Linked DNA regions of Homo sapiens. The protein of the gene in region 4 purifies or fractionates together with the protein of the main gene of each other region. This does not show direct contact. Each region holds a gene or a part of one and is shown on either strand. Other genes may lie near its edges. The genes, in order: ZNF318, DDX23, RGPD5 and ZBTB46.

What was found.
Region 1: the proteins of ZBTB46 (region 4) and ZNF318 purify together in Homo sapiens (affinity purification with mass spectrometry, with the first as the bait; one large-scale study listed by BioGRID). This does not show direct contact.
Region 2: the proteins of ZBTB46 (region 4) and DDX23 purify together in Homo sapiens (affinity purification with mass spectrometry, with the first as the bait; one large-scale study listed by BioGRID). This does not show direct contact.
Region 3: the proteins of ZBTB46 (region 4) and RGPD5 purify together in Homo sapiens (affinity purification with mass spectrometry, with the first as the bait; one large-scale study listed by BioGRID). This does not show direct contact.

Annotation. Positions count from the first base shown.
Region 1 is NC_000006.12:43,362,509-43,367,373, forward strand, and holds part of ZNF318 (zinc finger protein 318), read right to left. Parts: intron 2,933-4,865; coding exon 2,784-2,932; intron 1,712-2,783; exon of another isoform or gene 907-1,711; intron 1-906.
Region 2 is NC_000012.12:48,838,310-48,843,174, forward strand, and holds part of DDX23 (probable ATP-dependent RNA helicase DDX23), read right to left. Parts: intron 1,798-4,865; coding exon 1,704-1,797; intron 1,601-1,703; coding exon 1,535-1,600; intron 1-1,534. UniProt on the Homo sapiens protein: Involved in pre-mRNA splicing and its phosphorylated form (by SRPK2) is required for spliceosomal B complex formation.
Region 3 is NC_000002.12:109,827,945-109,832,809, reverse strand, and holds part of RGPD5 (RANBP2-like and GRIP domain-containing protein 5/6), read right to left. Parts: coding exon 4,839-4,865; intron 4,746-4,838; coding exon 4,662-4,745; intron 1,494-4,661; coding exon 1,358-1,493; intron 1-1,357.
Region 4 is NC_000020.11:63,827,460-63,833,003, forward strand, and holds the start of ZBTB46 (zinc finger and BTB domain-containing protein 46), read right to left. Parts: upstream 3,806-5,544; 5' UTR 3,638-3,805; intron 3,372-3,637; exon of another isoform or gene 3,239-3,371; intron 3,179-3,238; exon of another isoform or gene 3,098-3,178; intron 1-3,097. UniProt on the Homo sapiens protein: Functions as a transcriptional repressor for PRDM1.

The DNA.
Region 1 (4,865 bases), on a different chromosome or scaffold from region 4:
CATACACGTCTTTTTTTTTTTTTTTTTTTTTTTGAGACAGAGTCTTGTTCTGTGCAGTGGCACAATCTGGGCTCACTGCAAACTCTGCCTCCCAGGTTCAAGCTTCTCCTGCCTCAGCCTCTGGAGTAGCTAAGACTACAGGCATGCGCCACCACTGGGTAATTTTTGTATTTTTGGTAGAGACAGGATCTCATCATGTTGGCCAGGATGGTCTCGAACTCCTGACCTCAAGTGATTGGCCCACCTCAGCCTCCCAAAGTGCTGGGATTACAGGTATGAGCCACTGCGCCAGGCCCAAACATCTACATACAAAGGATATAAATGGCCTGTATCATTGGTTGAAGACTAGACTCACTGTCAGGAGACAACCTGAGTATGCCAATGGTCCTGTGGCCTGGTTTTAGTGGACAGTAATTATCCACACAAACCATACTGAACAAAAGGGAAAGAAGAGAAATGTGTAGGGGGCAACAGTATTTTTTAAATGGCCTTGTATCTTTGTTTAGAACCTTAATCTCACTTTCTCTAAAGTAGACCTGTGCCTCTGAAACACATGATTCTACAAAGAAGACTGCTGCCCCAAACTCCTTAAGAGGAAAAATTTTAATTTTTGTAATTTAAAAATATAATTAGTTCTATCTGAAGCACATGTGCATAACAAAGTTTATGCAAAGGGGAAGTGACATCCTAGGCCTAAGAAGAACTGCTGAAGCTAACTCAAAACCTCAGCAAAGAATGAAGACAATCACACTATGTACCACCTACCCAGACTACCTACTCAATAATTTCCCCAAACAGAAGCAGCCAGAAGAGCAAGGGCTATTGCCTCAATTAAGTGATACAGTCACATATCTTGAAGCCCTTTAGAAGCTTCAATGTTATATGACATAAGACTATTTTGCCTTGCTTCTTCTCTGAGAAAACACCAAATGGCAGATGATGTCGGTGGAGGGGGTGGGGCGGGGGCAGAGGCCCCGGGGGCCCTGGGATGGGAAACCGTGGTGGCTTCCATGGAGGGGCTGGGGTTGCAGCTGTGGACAGGGCTGAGGCCACGGAGCTCGTGGAGGCAAGGCCAAGGATAAGGAGTGGATGCCTGTCACCAAGCTGGGCTGCTTGGTTAAGGACATAAAGATCAAGTCCCTGGAGAACTACCTCTTCTTCCTGCCCATCAAGGAATCTGAGATCACTGACTTTTTCCTGGGGGCCTCTCTCAAGGATGAGGTGTTGAAGATTATGCCAGTGCAGAAGCAGACCCACACTGGCCAGTTGAAAAGGTTCAAGGCGTTTGTTGCCATCGGGGACTACAATGGCCACGTCGGTCTGGGTGTTAAGTGCTCCAAGGAGGTGGCCACTGCCACCTGCGGGGCCATCATCCTGGCCAAGCTCTCCATTCTCCCTGTGCACAGAGGCTACTGGGGGAACAAGATCCACAAGCCCCACACCGTTCCTTGCAAGGTGACAGGCTACTGCGGCTCTGTGCTGGTGCACCTCATCCCTGCGCCCAAGGGCACTGGCATCGTCTCAGCCCGTGCCCAAGAAGCTGCTCATGATGGCTGGTATTGATGACTGCTACACCTCAGCCAGGGGCTGCACTGCCACCCTGGGCAACTTCGCCAAGGCCACCTTTGATGCCATCTCTAAGACCTACAGCTACCTGACCCCCGACCTCTGGAAGGAGACAGGATTCACCAAGTCTCCCTATCAGGAATTCACTGACCACCTCATCAAGACACACACCAGAGTCTCTGTGCAGAGGACGTAGGCTCCAGCTGTGGCTACAACATAGGGTTTTTATACAAGAAATATAAAGTGAATTAAGCCTGAAAAAAAAAAAAAAAAAAGACTGTTCTGCCTTGCTTCACTGCATCCACAGCCAATGGAACTTTTAGGTATTACCAACGGCAAAACTGGTCCTCAGACTTCCTGCCCAGCTCTCCCCCACCCGCCTAGCTATGCTCTGTGCAACACGGCAAGCGACAGTCTCAGTTTGAAATTACATTACATTGATTTATTGCTACTGCTAATCATTTGTCAAAACTCCCAATGTGCTGGGCAGAGACCATAACAGTCATGGTCTCAGCTCTGAGAAAGAGTGCTTTCCTGAACTCCCATCCATACTTTGACTTTTGTGAGGTGAAAAACACCTAATGTGATTATTTACAATCTATATATGGTTAAGTTCCTAGTACCTGAGGTCTATATCCAACTCTCTTGAGTGTATCTACCCTTCCTCAGCACTCAATAGTTGTAAAATAATAACTGAACTTAAACATTTTTGAAGGTCTCTAGCTTTCTATTAATACTTTATCTACTTCACATACACACATATATTAGACATGAACTTACCTAACCCTTTCTGAATCTGTTTCAGCCTGGATAAACTAAAAAATAACACCATTTTAAAAAGACTTCCCATTTTGTCCAGAACTTTTCTTTGGAGAAGGGACTGCTCATAGTTTCACTGTTTTAGAATCTATACCATCTCAACTGTTCTTCATTTGGGGGACTCTGATTATGTCCCCTCAGCCTCTTCTTTCTAGTCAGACTCAGATGACCTTTTTAAAGTCTTTTTTTCTATACAATTTATTCAACAACAGAGTCTACACATCATTATACTCCTCCCACTTAGAAATTCTATCCCAGCGTTTTATTTTGTACTGGACATGTGGCATAGGAAATAACTTTAGAGCTGGCACCATCCTTTCAAATATATCATTCGGAAAACAGCAACATTTCTGCCTTCAAGTACTAGTATAGTAGGCCCTGCCTTAGGTGATGCCTACCTGTCCATGTCTTCCAGATTATCCACTGGTGACCCCAGCCGATCACTAAGCCGTCGCCGTTCTGGTGTGCTAACACAGAAGTGGTCATTGCCAACAGTGATCCTTAAGCTCTTTTCCAAAGAGTCAGAACACAGACCAGGAGAGCGTCTCTACAAAAGTAAAGGATAATATGGTTAGTCAATAGGGTCAAGACATCCCTACATCCAAAAACTCTCCTCCCTAGTTACAAAGTTAGCCAGGCATGGTGGCTCATGCCTGTATACCCAACACTTTGGGAGGCTGAGGTGTATAGGCCCAGGCAAGAATGTGAGACCAGTCTGGGCAACACAGACTCCATCTCTATAAAAAAAAGTTTAAAATTAGCCAGGTGTGGTCCCAACTACTCAGGTGGCTGAGGTGGGAGGATAGCTTAAGCTTGGGAGGTCAGGGCTGCAGTGAGCCATGACTGCACCACAGCACTTCAGCCTGGGCAATGAGCAGGACCTTGTCTCAAAAACAAAAGACAACCCTGCAAAGTTGGGGTTCAACAAGGTGAGAAATGGTTATGGTAAGACACTATACCAAAAATAAAGCACTTTTTAAAAATTATCATTTTCTTAGAGATATAAGCCCATACCTCTAACTCTCCTAAACGGTGACCTCTCATTCTTACTGGGCATGGGAAAAGAGAAGTGAATAAAGTCCCTGCTCTCAGAACCCTACTTCTAGTGTACATACTTCTAGTGAAGGAGGTAAGCCAAAAACAAGTTTAAAGAAAAAAAAAATTCTTCTGGTAAGTGCTATAGTCATTAAAACATGGTACCATAAAAGGAGTTACTTCAGATAGGATGGTTAGAAAAGGTTTTTCTCAGGTGATAACCTGAGGCCTGAAGAATGAGGTGTCAGCTTTGCAAAGAACAGGTAGAAAGATGTTTCAGGCAAAGAAAAGAACCACCTCAGTATAGAGCTTGGTATACTTTAAGTAACAGAAAAGCGGCCGGTGTGGCTGCAGCAAAGTGACAGAAGAGGAAAAGATAGGCAGAAAGCACAGTTGGGAAATTTGGATTTTATTCTTAGTGCAATTAACAGTTATAGGAGGGTTTTACACAGGATAGTGACATCATCTGACTACATTTTTCCTCCAGATGCTTGCACAGCACACCCTCACCTCCTTCAGATCTTTATTCAAAAATCACCTTCCCAGGAGGCCTTCCCTGACTACTCTCAAAAATTTTAACTCCCCGGGCCAGGCATGGTAGCTTATGCCTGTAAGCCCAGCATTTTGGGAGGCTGAGGCAGGAGAATCACTTGAGGCCAGGAGTTTGAGACCAGCCTGGGCAACATAGTGAAATCCCTCCCCACACCAAAACATTTTTTTAAAATAAAATCAGCTGGGATGTTGGTACGCACCTGTAGTCCCAGCTACTCAGGATGCTGAGGTGAGAGGATCGCTTGAGCGTGGGAGTTTGAGACTGCAGTGAGCTATGATCACACCACTACACTCAAGCCCGGGTGACAGAGCAACACTATATTACATACACACACACGCACACAAACTGTAACTCCCTTCTCTGCTCTTAGTCCTTTTTTTTTTGTTTTGTTTGAGACTTGCTCTGTCGTCCCCAGCCTGGAGTGCAGTGGCACGATCTCGGCTCACTGCAAGCTCCGCCTCCCAGGTTCATGCCATTCTCCTGCCTCAGCCTCCCAAGTAGCTGGGACTACAGGTGCCCGCCACCAAGCCCGACTAATTATTGTATTTTTAGTAGAGACGGTGTTTCACCGTGTTAGCCAACATGGTCTCGATCTCCTGACCTCGTGATCCGCCTGCCTCGGCCTCCCAAAGTGCTGGGATTACAGGCGTGAGCCACCGCGCCCGGCCCTATTTTAGTACTTCTTAGTCCTTCTTAGTACTTAATTACATTTAACATACCATCGCATTTCTAACTTCAACTTATTATCCAACTCTCCCTGCTAGAATATTAACTCTATAAGGATAGGAGTTTTTTTCTGGTTTGTACTTTGTTGTATCCCCAGGGTAGTCCAGAACAGTCCTAATGCAAAGTAGATGCTCAATAAATACATGTCAAATGTATAAAATGAGGG
Region 2 (4,865 bases), on a different chromosome or scaffold from region 4:
TGAGACCTAGATGGGAGGACCGCTTGAGGCCATGAGTTCAAGACCAGCCTGGGCAACATAGCAGACCTTGTTTCTACAAAAATAAAAAAACTCAGCCAGACATGATGGCATGTGCATATAGTCCCAGCTACTCAGGAGGCTGAGGCAGGAAAATCATATGAGCCCAGGAGTTTGAGGTTACAGTGAGCTGTGATTGCACCACTGTACTTTAGCCTGGGCAAACGAGCAAGACCTTACCTTTAAAAAAAAAAAAAAAATGTGGCCGAGTGCGGTGGCTTGTGCCTGTAATCCTAGCACTTTGGGAGGCCGAGATGGGCGGATCACGAGGTCAGGAGTTCAAGACAAGCCTGGCCAGCACAGTGAAACCCTATCTCTACTAAAAAAATACAAAAAATTAGCCAGGCATGGTGGCACGTGCCTGTAATCCCAGCTACTCAGGAGGCTGAGGCAGGAGAATTGCTTGAACCTGGGAGGCAGAGGTTGCAGTGAGCCGAGATCATGCCACTGCACTCCAGCCTGGGCAACGGGGCGAGACTCCATCTCAAACAAACAAACAAACAATGCATGTGTTATATATATTTTTTGAGACAGACTCTCGCTCTGTTGCCCAAGCTGCAGTACAGTGGTGTCATCATGGCTCACTGCAGCTTCAACCTCCTGGGCTCAAGCAATATCCTTGCCTCAGCCTCCTGAGTAGCTGGGACTACAGGCGCATGCTACCACAGATGGCTAATTTTTAAAATTTTATAGAGATGGGTTTTCACCATGTTGCCTAGGCTGGTCTAAAAATCCCTGGCTCAAGTGATCCTCCCATCTTGGCCTTCCAAAGTATTGGGATTACAGGTGTGAGCCACTGTACCCAGCTCAAAATTCCTATGTGGAAGCCCTAACTCCTAGTACCTCAGAATTTGACTATATGTGGAGACAGGACATGTAAAGAGGTGATTAAGTTAAAATGAGCCCATTAGGCTGGGCACAGTGGCTCACGCCTGTAATCCCAGCACTTTGTGAGGCCAAGGAGGGCAGATCACTTGAGCCCAGGGGTTCGAGACCAGCCTGGACAACGTGGTGAAATCTGGACTCTACAAAAAATACAAAAATTAGCTGGACGTTGTGGCACGCACCTGTAGTCCCAGATACTTGGGAGGCTGAGGTGGGAGGATTGCTTCAGCCTGGGAGGTGGAGGTTGAAGTGAGCCGATATCATGCCACTGTACTCCATCCTGGGCGACAGAGTGAGACTCTGTCTCAAAAAAAAAAAAAAAAAAAAAAAAAAGGGCCTTTTAGGGTGAGCCCTAATCCAACACAAGGGGTACATGTGTACAGAGGGAGGACCATGTGAAGAGCTGAGGAAGAAGACAGCCTTATAAGCCAAGGAGAGAGACCTCAGAAGAAATAACCCTGCTGACACTCCGCTCTCAGACTTCCAGCCTCCAGAACTGTGAGAAAATTAACTTCTGTCGTTGAAGTCACCCAGTCTGTGGTATTGTGTTATGGCAGCCTGAGCCGATGAATGAAGACCCTCAAGTACTTACCTTAGCCTCAGCTTCTTCCTCAGCCTTTTTCTTGGCCAGAAGCTCCTCCAGGGATAATGGCTGGGCCTGAAGATAAAACAGAACTTTAGTCTATAAAGGCTCTCTCCCTTTAAAGATCAACAAAGCAACGCACGAGTTGAAGATGAAAAATATCCTTCCTCTCCTTTACCTTAGGCTTCTTATCACCATGTTCATCCTCTTCATCCTTCTTAGAGTCTCTGTCCTTCCGAGATTTAAAGTCTTTTCCTCGACCAGGAGATAAGCTTTGAGGAAAAGGAACAAGGTCCACATCACTCTTACTTCAGTGCCTGGATGAGGTTCAAGTTGAGCCCCGAAAAGAGAATGGAAGTTTCCCCATGACTCAACAAGACTGGCCCATGGTCATCTATCATGTCTTGAAACTCTCTTAGCAGGCATGGTCATTCTGCCAGCTCTGAAACCTAATTATGGCCCTGTCTTGGCCCCTTTCTACCCAAATCTCCTTTTGAGACTAATCTCTTTTGGGAAGTGGGACTTTACTACTGATGTCAAAAATATTTCCCCTAGGCCAGGCGCGGTGTCTCATGCCTATAATCCCAGCACTTTGGGAGGCTAAGACAGGTGGGTTACCTGAGGTCAGGAGTTCAAGACCAGCCTGGCCAACATGGCAAAACCCTGTCTCTAGTAAAAACACAAAAATTAGCCAGGTGTGGTTGTTTAGAGAAAAATTTTTTTTTTTTTTTTTTTTGAGACACAGTCTCACTCTGTCGCCCAGGCTGGAGTGCAATGGTGTGATCTCAGCTCACTGCAACCTCCGCCTCCTGGGTTCAAGAAATTTTCCTGCCTCAGCCTCCTGAGTAGCTGGGACTACAGGCGAGTACTGCCACCACTGGCTAATTTTTATATTTTTAGTAGAGACGAGGTTTCATCATGTTGGCCAGGCTGGTCTCGAACTCTTGACCTCAGGTGATACATCCACCTCGGCCACCCAAAGTGCTAGGATTACAGGTGTGAGCCACAGCGCCTGGCCCTCCTTAACTCTTTAATATACAATGAATTTAGCCTACATGGCCACCACCACAAGCCAAGAAGATACTGCTATCTATATTCCCTCATCATTTTTCATTCCTATCAATCCCAACAATCCTTTCCCCATACCTGCTCTAAGCTTAATCTACAAGATAATTCAAACAACCCCACTGAGTTTCTGTTAGGAGCATTCTGTCCTCTGCCTTGAATTCTAACCTATACTTTCAGGGCCTGATAAGAACTCTGTATACAGGCCAGGCACAATGGCTCACGCCTGTAATCCCAGCACTTTGAGAGGCCGAGGTGGCCGGATCACCTAAGGTCAAGAGTTCGAGACCAGCCTGGCCAACATGGAGAAACCCTGTCTCTACTAAAAATACAAAAATTAGCCAGGCATGGTGGCGCATGCCTGTATTCCCAGCTACTTGGGAGGCTGAGGCAGGAAAATTGCCTGAACCCAAGAGGCAGAGGTTGCAGTGAGCCGAGATCGTGCCATTGCACTCCAGCCTGGGCAACAGAACAAAAACTCCATCTCAAAAAAACCCCCAAAGATTCAGAGAAGAATCCATAGATAGAAAAGCTTCAGGCTCCCTCTCCCCTCTCCCCTCTCCCCACGGTCTCCCTCTCCCTCTCTTTCCATGGTCTCCCTCTGATGCTGAGCCAAAGCTGGACCGTACTGCTGCCATCTCGGCTCACTGCAACCTCCCTGCCTGATTCTCGTGCCTCAGCCTGCCGAGTGCCTGCGATTGCAGGCGTGCGCCGCCACGCCTGACTGGTTTTCGTATTTTTTTGGTGGAGACGGGGTTTCGCTGTGTTGGCCGGGCTGGTCTCCAGCTCCTGACCGCGAGTGATCCGCCAGCCTCGGCCTCCCGAGGTGCCGGGATGGCACACGGAGTCGCGTTCACTCAGTGCTCAATGGTGCCCAGGCTGGAGTGCAGTGGCGTGATCTTGGCTCGCTACAACCTCCACCTCCCAGCTGCCTGCCTTGGCCCCCCAAAGTGCCGAGATTGCAGCCTCTGCCCGGCCGCCATCCCATCTAGGAAGTGAGGAGCGTCTCTGCCAGGCCGCCCATCGTCTGAGATGTGGGGAGCGCCTCTGCCCTGCCGCCCCGTCTGGGATGTGAGGAGCGTCTCTGCCCGGCCGCCCCGTCTGAGAAGTGAGGAGACCCTCTGCCTGACAACCGCCCCGTCTGAGAAGTGAGGAGCCCCTCCGCCCGGCAGCCACATCGTCTGAGAAGTGAGGAGCCCCTCCGCCTGGCAGCCACCCCGTCTGGGAAGTGAGGAGCGTCTCCGCCCGGCAGCCACCCCGTCCGGGAGGGAGGTGGGGGGGGTTAGCTCCCCACCCGGCCAGCCGCCCCGTCCAGGAGGGAGGTGGGGGGGTCATCCCCCCACCCGGCCAGCCGCCCATCCGGGAGGGAGGTGGGGGGGTCAGCCCCCGGCCCGGCCAGCCGCCCTGTCCGGGAGGTGAGGGGCGCCTCTGCCCGGCCGCCCCTACTGGGAAGTGAGGAGCCTCTCTGCCCAGTCAGCCGCCCCGTCCGGGAAGGAGGTGGGGGAGGTCAGCCCCCCGCCCGGCCAGCCGCCCCATCCGGGAGGGAGGTAGGGGGGTCAGCCCCCCGCCCGGCCAGCCACCCCGTCCGGGAGGAAGGTGGGGGGGTCAGCCCCCCGCCCGGCCAGCCGCCCCGTCCGGGAGGGAGGTGGGGGGGTCAGCCCCCCGCCCGGCCAGCCGCCCCGTCCAGGAGGTGAGGGGCGCCTCTGCCCGGCCGCCCCTACTGGGAAGTGAGGAGCCCCTCTGCCCGGCCAGCCGCCCCGTCCGGGAGGGAGGTGGGGGGGTCAGCCCCCCGCCCGGCCAGCCGCCCCGTCCAGGAGGTGAGGGGCGCCTCTGCCCGGCCGCCCCTACTGGGAAGTGAGGAGCCCCTCTGCCCGCCCACCACCCCGTCTGGGAGGTGTACTCAACAGCTCATTGAGAACGGACCATGATGACAGTGGCGGTTTTGTGGAATAGAAAGGCGGGAAAGGTGGGGAAAAGATTGAGAAATCGGATGGTTGCCGTGTCTGTGTAGAAAGAGGTAGACATGGGAGACTTTTCATTTTGTTCTGTACTAAGAAAAATTCTTCTGCCTTGGGATCCTGTTGATCTGTGACCTTACCCCCAACCCTGTGCTCTCTGAAACATGTGCTGTGTCCACTCAGGGTTGAATGGATTAAGGGTGGTGCAAGATGTGCTTTGTTAAACAGATGCTTGAAGGCAGCATGCTCGTTAAGAGTCATCACCACTCCCTAATCTCAAGTACCCAGGGACACAAACACTGCGGAAGGCCGCAGGG
Region 3 (4,865 bases), on a different chromosome or scaffold from region 4:
ATGAGAATGTTGGATTTACATGCTTGTATAAGAACAGAAGACCTTTTATGCCTGTACACAGAAGAAATGGAAATCATGACCCACAAGGCACCAAATAACTGACTGCACACATCACTAAAAAAGCCCCAGGAAAGGCTAGCCGGTTTGTTTATCCTCTTACAAGGACCTATATGATGTGTAAGGTTTTAAGAAAACAAGGTTTGAACGTTAGACATTTCATATACTTATCTATGACTTACGACATTTAATAAGCTTGACTTCACAAAGATTTTCTGTTATTTTGCTTGTGTTGAGAAGATACTATCACAAAAGGCTAGTGGGGTTGCCTTAACTATAGGAACCATCACACAAATGTGCTCATCTAAACTAGATTTTTTTCTAAATCTTTCCTGGGCTAAAAAGAGAAAAAAAAAAAGGGCACTACTACTACCATTTCAGAAGTCTGTCGTACGTAAAAGGAACAATTTTGTTATTTCTGGCTGCCTGGGAGCAATGTATTATACTGGCAAGTGCTTTGGAGTTACACCACTGGAGTGTGAATCTCGGCTCTATCAATAACTAGCTGTATAATAATGAGTAAGTTACCTAACCTTTCTTTATCCATTTCCTTATTTATAAAAAAGGGATTAATAATGGTACCGGCCATTCTAAGTTACTGTAATTAAATCAAATTACATTCACACAGCACTTTTGCACACAGCCAACCCACAGTAAACACTATTAGTAACCTTAGTTCATTAACTGTTTACTGTATACTCTAATAAATGTCTGATACACACCCACGCCCACCTGCACATACACAAATGCTCATAGTAATTATGTAAGGCAAGTATTATCTCCACATTTCAGACAGGTTAACTTACACAGCTATTATAGTAAGTGATAGAGCAGAACTTAAAAACCCAGTATGATTCAGGTCCAAACTCCTTTTCTTTCTTTATATAACCATAATATTTCAAATTAAGTAAGATTTCCTATATAACGTCCTGCCTCTCATCATTATCATCAAAATAATTCCCCAGAGGTGTAGGTTCTTAATTAAGCATTTCTTAGTGCATAACTCTATTCAATAACATTTTGCAATTTAAGGAATAATCTCATCTCAGCTCATCTGAGGTGTGGATTAAGTGTTCTTTAAGCCTTTATATACACGTGATCACATACGGCTCGTTTTTTCTGCTTGGGATTATAAAAATCTCCGTAACACCTAATACAGCTTTTGAAGTCACATATAAACAGACGTTGACATGTATATTAACAAACATATATAAACAAGGTGATTTCACACGTTATCTACTTAAAAGAGGGAAGTAAAGTAGTTTTACTAAAATATGCGATTATCCACTTGCCAGCTCACCTGTTAGTGGAGCCCCATGAAATGTCTGTGACCCCTGATATCCATCAGGCACCGAGTCTGGTCCATAATTCTCTGTGGGCCAACGATGACGGGATGCTGACTTACTGCTATTTAGTTTCAACTCCTGCATTTCTTTCTATTGGAAGAAAAAAAAAATCAAATAATTTTAATCATTTAATTATATCATGCCAGAAACAGTGCTGGGGAAACTTACTCTTTTAAATTTAAATAACTGATTTTTTCTTTTTTTCTTTTTTGAGATGGTGTCTCGATCTGTCGTCCAGGCTGGAGTGCAATGGCACAATCTTGGCTCACCGCAACCTCCACCTCCTGGGCTCAAGCAATTCTCCCACCTCAGCCTCCCGAGTAGCTGGGATTACAGGCGTCAGCCAGCACGCCCGGCTAATTTTTGGTATAATAGTAGAGATGGGGTTTCACCATGTTTGCCAGGCTAGTCTTGAACTCCTGACCTCAAGTGATCCACCACCTCAGCCTCCCAAAGTGCTGGGATTATAGGTGTGACCCACCACGCCCGGACCTGATTATATCTTTTGAAAGTTTCTATTTGCCAAAGAGTTCTAGGTACCTGGTGCTGATTTTAAAATATGATTCTTAATTTGTTAAAAATTTATCTGCTCCCATTTTCATTCGTTAATACAAAACCTAATTCATTAACTCTCTCACCTAAACAAATAACCTCCTAAATGATCACACCTTCATTTCCATTCTACACTTGCCTACATTAACCTTTCTGACGTTCACCTCCAGCCAAGACAATTCCCTGCTCAAAAAAACAAGTACCTACAAACTAAACTTCTTTCCCCAACTTTCACAGTCCTCTAACATTACACTGACCATCCTTTCAGTGTGTTCTTTCTACACTGCAACCTGGACTACCTGACATTCCAAATCACCTCCCCAAATTAGCTTTTCACTTAACCCTGTGTTCAAACAAAATACAACTAATTCTCAAGGTGATGTTCAAATGCTCCACCAGGAAAGGGAAAAAAGTAGTAGCTGCAGAGAATTTATTATGTATATAATAATACGTCCAATGCACTTAAACTCTTAATTTTTACACCATCTACACTGTTAGGTAAACAATATTAGCTCCTATCTTAAAATGAGAGAAACGGATGCAGGGAATAACAGCTGGAATTTGAAACACATCTGACTCCAAAAATGTTTTCTTAACACAACTCTGCTGCCTTGACAAGATGGCAGATAGATCCAATGCCGTCTAGTGTAGCTATGTGGCTACTTGATCTCTGCTGAAGAAAACTAAATGACAGCACCATACCCAACACCCTAGAACCTACAAAATGTCCCCTTACAAAACAGACACTTAACAGGAAATTCTTTTTCCAAAGAAATTGTAGTGGTATCAGAAAACAGGTAAATTTTGAAAAGTTTCAAACTTCTCTGTATCAGCCCAGGAATCCGATCAGTTCTAACAAGTGAGGTCAGGGACAGATCTAGCATGTCTGCTTTCTGTTTCTACAAGTGTTTCAATTAAAAATTTCCCAGAAAGACCTAACCATGAGGTCCAAAACTATCTCAATTTTCAAGCTAAATAAAATTTCCCCCATTCATCCATCTACAGTGCCTAGTCCAGATGCTACACATACACATCCAAGAAATAAGAAACTAGTGGAATCACCTAGAAAACTTTATAGTCACTGTTGGTATCCGCACCAGAGCTTTGAATTTGCAATCACTGCTGTAACTGTAATTTTTAACATTCAGTGTGATGAGAACTGGCTTCAATAATTCTCTCATTTTAAAGATAAGAAGCCAAACAGTCACAAAGGAAGTGACTGGCCCAAGATCATTAATTAATGGCAGAGTCAGTACTAGTACCAAGCTTTTCAAGCTCATGGACTAGTGCTCCACTATACTTCCACAGAATACAATGTTGGGAGCCTGAAACCTGTATGTTAAGTCAAAATTGTATGTAATTGTCATAGGCCACGACTACACAGAATTAACATTCAAAATTTTTGTGCAAATTCAAAAATGTCTTCCCCACCAAATAGTATTCTCTTAATTTGCAAATGCTGCTGATCACACTGTAATAATCGCCACACATCAGCATATCCTTGATGTAACTTTAGCAGTATGAGTAATTTAGTTCTTGCTTGATAAACATGAAAGAACCTACTTTTATTTCCAATTCCAAAAAAGTCAAGCTCCTTTGAACCCTATTGTTAAAATAAGATATATATACATAACTATTTCCTTACATAATTAAGTCAAATTCATATGGAAGTATTAAAATATAGTAAGACTTTTTGAAGCTCAGACCACTTTTCGATTCCTAGCTATACATTTGAAACACATGTAATCCACAGCTAATCTGGGAATGAACTCATAGACCAGAGTATGATTAGTACATTGTAGCACTTCAATCACTCGGGAACCTTCTCTGTGTCAGGAACTCTTATATTTTAAATAAAACAGTTTCTACCTTTGAAGGTCTCAAATTTTGTGGAAGATGAGGAGAGAGACACATAAAGTACTTTCAAAAATATGGTAAAGGGCTGGGTGCGGTGGTTTACACCTGTAATCCCAGCACTTTGGGAGGCCAAGGTGGGCAGATCACCTGAGGTCAGAAGTTCAAAACCAGCCTGGCCAACATGGTGAAACTCTGTGTCTACTAAAAATACAAAAATTAGCTGGGCCTGGTGGCGGGTGCCTGTAATCCCAGCTACTCGGGAGGCTGAGGCAGGAGAGTCACTTGAACCTGGGAGGTGGAGGTTGCAGTGAGCCAAGATCACACCATTGCACTCCAGACTGGGCAACAGAGTGAGACTCCATCTCAAAACAAAACAAAACAAAATATGGTAAAGGGTCAAGACCGAGGTATGTAGGCTGGGCACAGTGGCTCACACCTGCAATCCCAGCACTTTGGGAGGCTGAAGCAGGAGGATTGTTTGAGCCAGGAGTTCAAGGCCACCCTGGGCAACATGGCAAAATCCCATCTCTACAAAAAATACAACAATTAGCTGGGCCTGGTGGCATGTGACTGTCTGTAGTCCTGGCTTCGTGGCAGGCTGAGCCAAGAGGCTCTCTTGAGCTAGGAGGTTGAAGCCGCAGTAAGCTGTGATCATACCACTGTACTCCAGCCTGCACAACAGAACAAGACCCTTGTCTTAAAAAAAAAAAAAAAAGACCAAAATGTCCCCTTGCCATACTATTTGGATGGCAAGGGGACATTCTGACCAGCTTCAGAAAAAAAGTGAGAGAGTAGCCAGGGAAGGAATCTTGGAATAAAAAGTACAGCTAGAGAAATTAAGTGACTTACCTTAATGGCCTCTACTTGTTGGCAAATCATATTCAGTAAAGAATTCCGATCTTCTGTCCATCGAGGTGGTGTTTCGGGAGAATACTGAAAAAAAAAATAAAAATAACAAAACAGCATTTAAAACACTTAGAACAGAAACAATTTCACAATGAAATGATTCCATTCTTTCCTGTTTACCTTGTAACTTTTACTTGGTGATAGTGA
Region 4 (5,544 bases):
TAGCCGGGCGCGGTGGCGGGCGCCTGTAGTCCCAGCTACTCGGGAGGCTGAGGCAGGAGAATGGCGTGAACCCGGGAAGCGGAGCTTGCAGTGAGCCGAGATTGCGCCACTGCAGTCCGCAGTCCGGCCTGGGCGACAGAGCGAGACTCCGTCTCAAAAAAAAAAAAACAAAAAAAAAAAACCACAAAAGATCTGCAAATGCTTTTGAAAAATACACTAATGTTTCTCAACTTTCTATTGTAAAATAGCTATGGTAGCAAATTTTTAATCCAGATAATGATGTTTAGAAGCATTTAATAATTTTAAATTGTAAATTAGAGTAAAACGGCACTGCTGATACTCAACTATGCAACAGAACCATTCAACAGAACACTTTGCATAAATCATACTTAGGTCAAATTTCACTGGTTTCATTTGTTTTTATGCTTTAACAGGACAATGTTTTATTTGTTTATTTATTACTTAATTTTATTGTTTTAGAGACAAGGCCTCGCTCTGTTGCCCAGGCTGGAGTCCAGTGGCACAATCATAGTTCATTACAGCCTCAAACTCCTGGCCTCAAGCGGCCCGCCCGCCTCAGCCTCCCAAAGCACTGGGATTACAGGCGTGAGCCACCACGCCCAGCCTCAGAACCACTTTTAGGTTGTTAAAAAACATCCTTTCTCTTTTCCATCTATAAACAACACCATTGGGGCCCTTTGTCATCACCAGCAAACCAGAACACCAAGCCTGGGTCTGTATATGTGAGGCACTCAAAGGGTCTAAGTGATAACAGAAAAGCAGGAAAATCCCTCCCATGGACCCCATGGCCTAAGACCCCAGCACTCCGCACAAGTTCACAGCTACGCCGCAGCCGCGGCAGACGGCAAGAGGACCACAATCAGGATAAGGCGGCGGCCTCTCAAAGCCCTGAATAAGTCTGTGGCCTTAATAGAGATTTTGAATCAAACATTTATTCTTAGGAGTCAGGCCATTCAAGCAAACTTAGCAGCAACAAGATGAATTTTTCCCCCAGGGGAGGGGACAGATTCAAAGGGTATTTTTTTTTTTAAATCTGCTAGAAAAACCAGTAGAGGGAAGTATCAACCATCACTCAAGGTCACTCATGAGACTTCCAGGTAAAACATGCAAAGCCCAGGGAGAAGCAGCAGCCTGAGTTTTTACAAGAACGGTACTTAGGCAAGAACACGAAGTCCCCAGGACAGGGAACCTACCACGGCAGACGCCGTGACACTGGGTGTGCGGATGGGAAGGGGCAAGGACTTCTAGACCTTTCCTCTCACTTTAACTCAGCAGTGGAGCGGGTGCCTGGGCACCAGTCACGGCAGTGGGAGGAACCGGCTCCAGTTCTCAGGCTGTGGAGCCGTCTAGGCACCGTGCACGAAGTGGGTCTCCAGGGCTCTGAGAGGCCGGGCTAAGACCTCTGATGGAGAACAGAGCACTGGAGCTGCACCGCTGTCCCAGAAACACAGGCCACAGGGACAGAGTGGCCCAATTTCCCTTAATTTAAAAACCCCACGTCAGGGCAGTGTTGGAAAGTTCACTCTGCTAAAATTTAATTCAGTGTTTGTAAATAGTACATCGTCTGACAATAACAACTGTGTACCCCCCACGGCATTTCCTCTAAATCCTTGGAGCAGTTTCACCGTTCACAGGGTTTACCTCCTGACCTCTGTGACCACCAGGGGCTGGGGAGGGACGGAGGACGCAGGGCACTGGGTCAGCCTGGCCCTGGTGGAACTGACCTGGGGGCCCTTAGGTAACAGTCCACCCAACCCGAACATCCGAAACAGGAGTGGAACTCAGGTCTGAGCACAGAACGACTCATCCTCACACAAAACAGCTAAACCCGAACAGAAATCACCTCATCTAAGCAAAAGAAAACTCTCACGTTCAGGATAATGCTGTCAGTGAGAGGCTTAATTAAATGCTTGTCCCCAGGCTGGCCTGAAGGCAAGGCGGAATTTCGGATTTCTAAACACCTCAAAGTGAGTGCATTCCACGCCCCAAGGAGAAATCTGACAGTAACTCCCCAGCCCTCTTCCTTCAGTTACGGAGAAGATGTCTAGCTTTTTAGGGGACACAGTAAGTTCCCACCTAAATTTGCAGTAACTTGTGCCCAAGTACTCCCCTCACTCCTCAGTCCTTTCTGCAGTGGTAACCAGGCTGAGGTGCCCAAAAGTGCCAGTTGGAAACACGTAAAACACACCGAGCAGAAAGGTTCTACTCTGATAAATACTGTCGCTTGCTTCATTATTCATGTGAAAAACCCCTTCTATACATTTCCTTTTGATGAACAAACTATTTTCCACTCTTGTAGAGTGAAATAGTGCCTTGCAGAGGCAGCGTGAGTGCCAGCAGCAGAGATGTATCCAGTCTGTTACCCAAACGGGAAGTTAGCTCTGATAATAGAGCCAATATGAAAGATTCTACAATCGATACAATTAAAATGCCCGTGAGTTCTCGGCGCACAGGTGTCTGCGCCCAGGCCGCGCGCTAAACACGTTTCTAATTAGCATTTCTTTAAACAATGCTGATCACAATCTTGCCACCGTAATCCACTCCAAATGCATCGTTGAGATTGCAGCACGGAAAGCGAGAGAGGAAATTCGCTGCGAATCTCAAACTTTCTTTTGTTTATATTTCTTCGCTGTCAGAAAATATCCGTTCTTCGCCCCATCTGGTCTGTACCCTGGCTCCTCGGTCCAGCCCTATTGTGTGTGCTTCGTTAAACCTACAAACAGTGAATCTGTCAGCGGGGCCAGGGGAACCCCAACTAGCAGGAGCCCTCCCTCTGGCGCAGAGAATTCCCCGTTTGCCTTAGGGATTGAGTTGTCAGACACCGGCTCGCGCTCCCCCGCGAAACTGACATGTCTATTTACAGAGAAACAAAGACGCGGCTCGCAGCGGACCCCGCTTCCTCCGCGCGCCCCGTCCGCCCCGCGCGCCCCGAGCCCTCCGCGCCCCGAGCCGCCCCGCCCCGAGGCCCCTGCGCCCCGGTTCGGCCGGCGATTAAGATGGAGACCAGGCCGGCGCCCGGCGTCCGGGGAGACAATGACCCCCCGGCCTCAGGGCGCCGGGACCCGCCCGCGCCCACCTCCCGCAGTTCCGACTCTTGGCAAACTCGGCGCGGGCGGCTCCGGGTGCGGCTGGGCTGTGCCGGCGGGGGGCGCGGGCGGGGGGCGCCAAGACGCCCCCGGGCTGCCTCGGGGCCAGGCGTTGACGCAGCAGAAATTACCAGCTGGAAAATTCCCCTCTCGGAGGTGCCGGGGAGGGAGCGCGGCGGCGGCGGGAGGTGCCGGGGGCCGAGGGGCCGGGGCAGCCCAGCCGCCTCCGCGCTCAGCCCCGCGGGGAACCCGCGCCGCCCCCGCGCGCCCCGCCCCGCGCCGCCGGCCTGGGGGGCACCCGCGGGGGCCGGGCCGGGGTCTCCGCCGCCGCCCCCGGAGCCCGCGCCGCAGCTGGGAGCGCCGATGGCCCCCGGGAGGGCGCCCCCGCGGGGCGGGGCGTGGCGGGGCGGCCGGCGGCGGGGGCGCGCCCGGGCTCGCAGCGGCCCCGGCTCCCGGCTCCCGGCTCCGGGCCCGGCCCCCGCCGCGATGCGCCCGCCCGGCCGCGCGGACAATGAGCCGGCGCCGCTTACCTGTGACCCCATGGGGCGCGGGCGAGGGCGGGCGCCGCGGCCGCCGGGCCGGCGCCGGTGATCGCCGCCGCCGCCGGGAGGGCGCTGCGTCCGGGCGGGTCCGAGCTGCGCGCTCGCCGGGGCTGCTCGGTCCGTCCGTCCGTCCGTCGGTCCGTCAGGCCGGCGCGCGCCCCCGCGCCCGCTCCAACCCCGCGGCCCCCGCCGCCCGCGCGCGCGCGCCCCGCCCGCGGACCCTGACCCCGCCCCCCGGCGCGCGCCCGGCCGCCGCTGATTGGCCCGCGCCGCGCCCCGGCCGCGGCCACCGCCCCGGGCCCCGCCCACGCCGGCCCGGCCGCCGGCCCCGCCCCTCGCTCGGCTCCCGGCGCCGCGCCGCGGGGTCGCAGGGGGCCGCGCCGGGGGTCCGTTCTCCCCCCCGCGGGCAGCCGGACAGCGGAAGTGCGGGCTGGAGCTCGCTGGGCATTGTGGGAAGCCCCCTCCCCTGGGCTGGCGGGGGGCTGGGGCGGCGCGGCGCGGGGGTCCCCCTGGCCCCCGCTGCGCCCTTGCCCCGCGAGCGCGGAGCAGCCTGGAAACACCCCACGGGAGCGGCGACCCCGGCGAGGGCACCCGCTCCCTTCCCGGGCCGCGCACCGGGCGCTGCCCACGCGCAGGTTCCTCGGGGGCGCGCGGGTGCCCAGGTCACCGGCCGTCCCCGCGCCTGACGCGCGGTTGCACTGCGCGCGTCTCGCAAACTTGGCGACTCCCCCAGCCCGGCCGGGCATCAACGCGGGCCGCTCGCGGTGCGGAAAAGGCGCCCCCAAGGAAGGCCGCCCGGGGTGCGGGGTCTGGAAGGGCCTGGGCACCGCGCGCGCCTACCCTCGGGGGCCTCGGCGCACCCGGAGATCGGCGCACCTCGGGCGCAGGCCTCGTGGGGGTGCCCGCCAGTGGGGCTCGCTTTTGGCTGACTAGGGGCACCGGCGGCCGCGCGTGGGTCCCTCCCGTCGTGTTGTCTGCGGGGGACGAATGGCTCCGGGAGGGGGCGGGAACCAGCGGCCCGGGCCTCGCCCCAGCCCGTGTGCAGCCCCGATCCGAACGGCCTGGGACGCGTCTCCACCACTCGGCGCCCGGACTCTGCGCGTCGCTTCTCGCCTCCGCCGTCCTCAGCCCTCGGGCGGGTAGAGTGGGAAGCGCGGCCCCGCATTCCTGGCCGGCCTGCGCAGGGGTAAAGGCCACCTCGCTTCCTCTCCCCGGGCGCGGCGGGAAGGGAGGTGAGCCTGTGGCCGGCAGCCGCGCGAGGGAGTCGAGCCCGGCCCGGCCAACCAATGGGGAGGCGCCCGGGCCGTCCAGCCTGCCTCCCTGCGGGCCCAGCGCAGCGGATTCCTCGGGAGGTGGGAGGCGGCGGCCCTATGGGTGCTTTCAAATCTGGATGTGTGAGGCGCATTCAGGAGCGGCAGTGGGAGGCGGCTGAGGGCTCTCCATGAGTGAGCAAAGGCGAAGCGAGGTGTGGCTGCCGGGACCAACGCCTGGGACACTCCCTTACTGCCGTCGCGGGCGCCTGGAAATGGCTGTGCGGACACCCCGTTCCCATCCCCTCGCCAAGGTCGCCGGGATGGCACTGCGGCCCAGGAAGCCCCGTCGCCGGCCTACCTCGCGCGGCACCCTCTCGGTGGCACTGCCTGCTCTGGTCTGAAACTGTAGCCCCAGCCTCACCGACCTTCGGGAAGTGGGGGCTGAGCACAACCACCCTGAGAAGAGGCGGCTTCCAGGAGGGTCTGGCGGGTCACGTGCATCCCCCTTGGAGAAAACAGCACTGCCTGCAGGAGCCCCCACCTGCCCACCCAGAGCCCAGTTGTACCCCACGGAGGAAAGGAGGCCTGGGGAGACAGGAGAGCTCGGGCCCACCGAGCCAAAGCAAGGAGGACCAGAGCCCT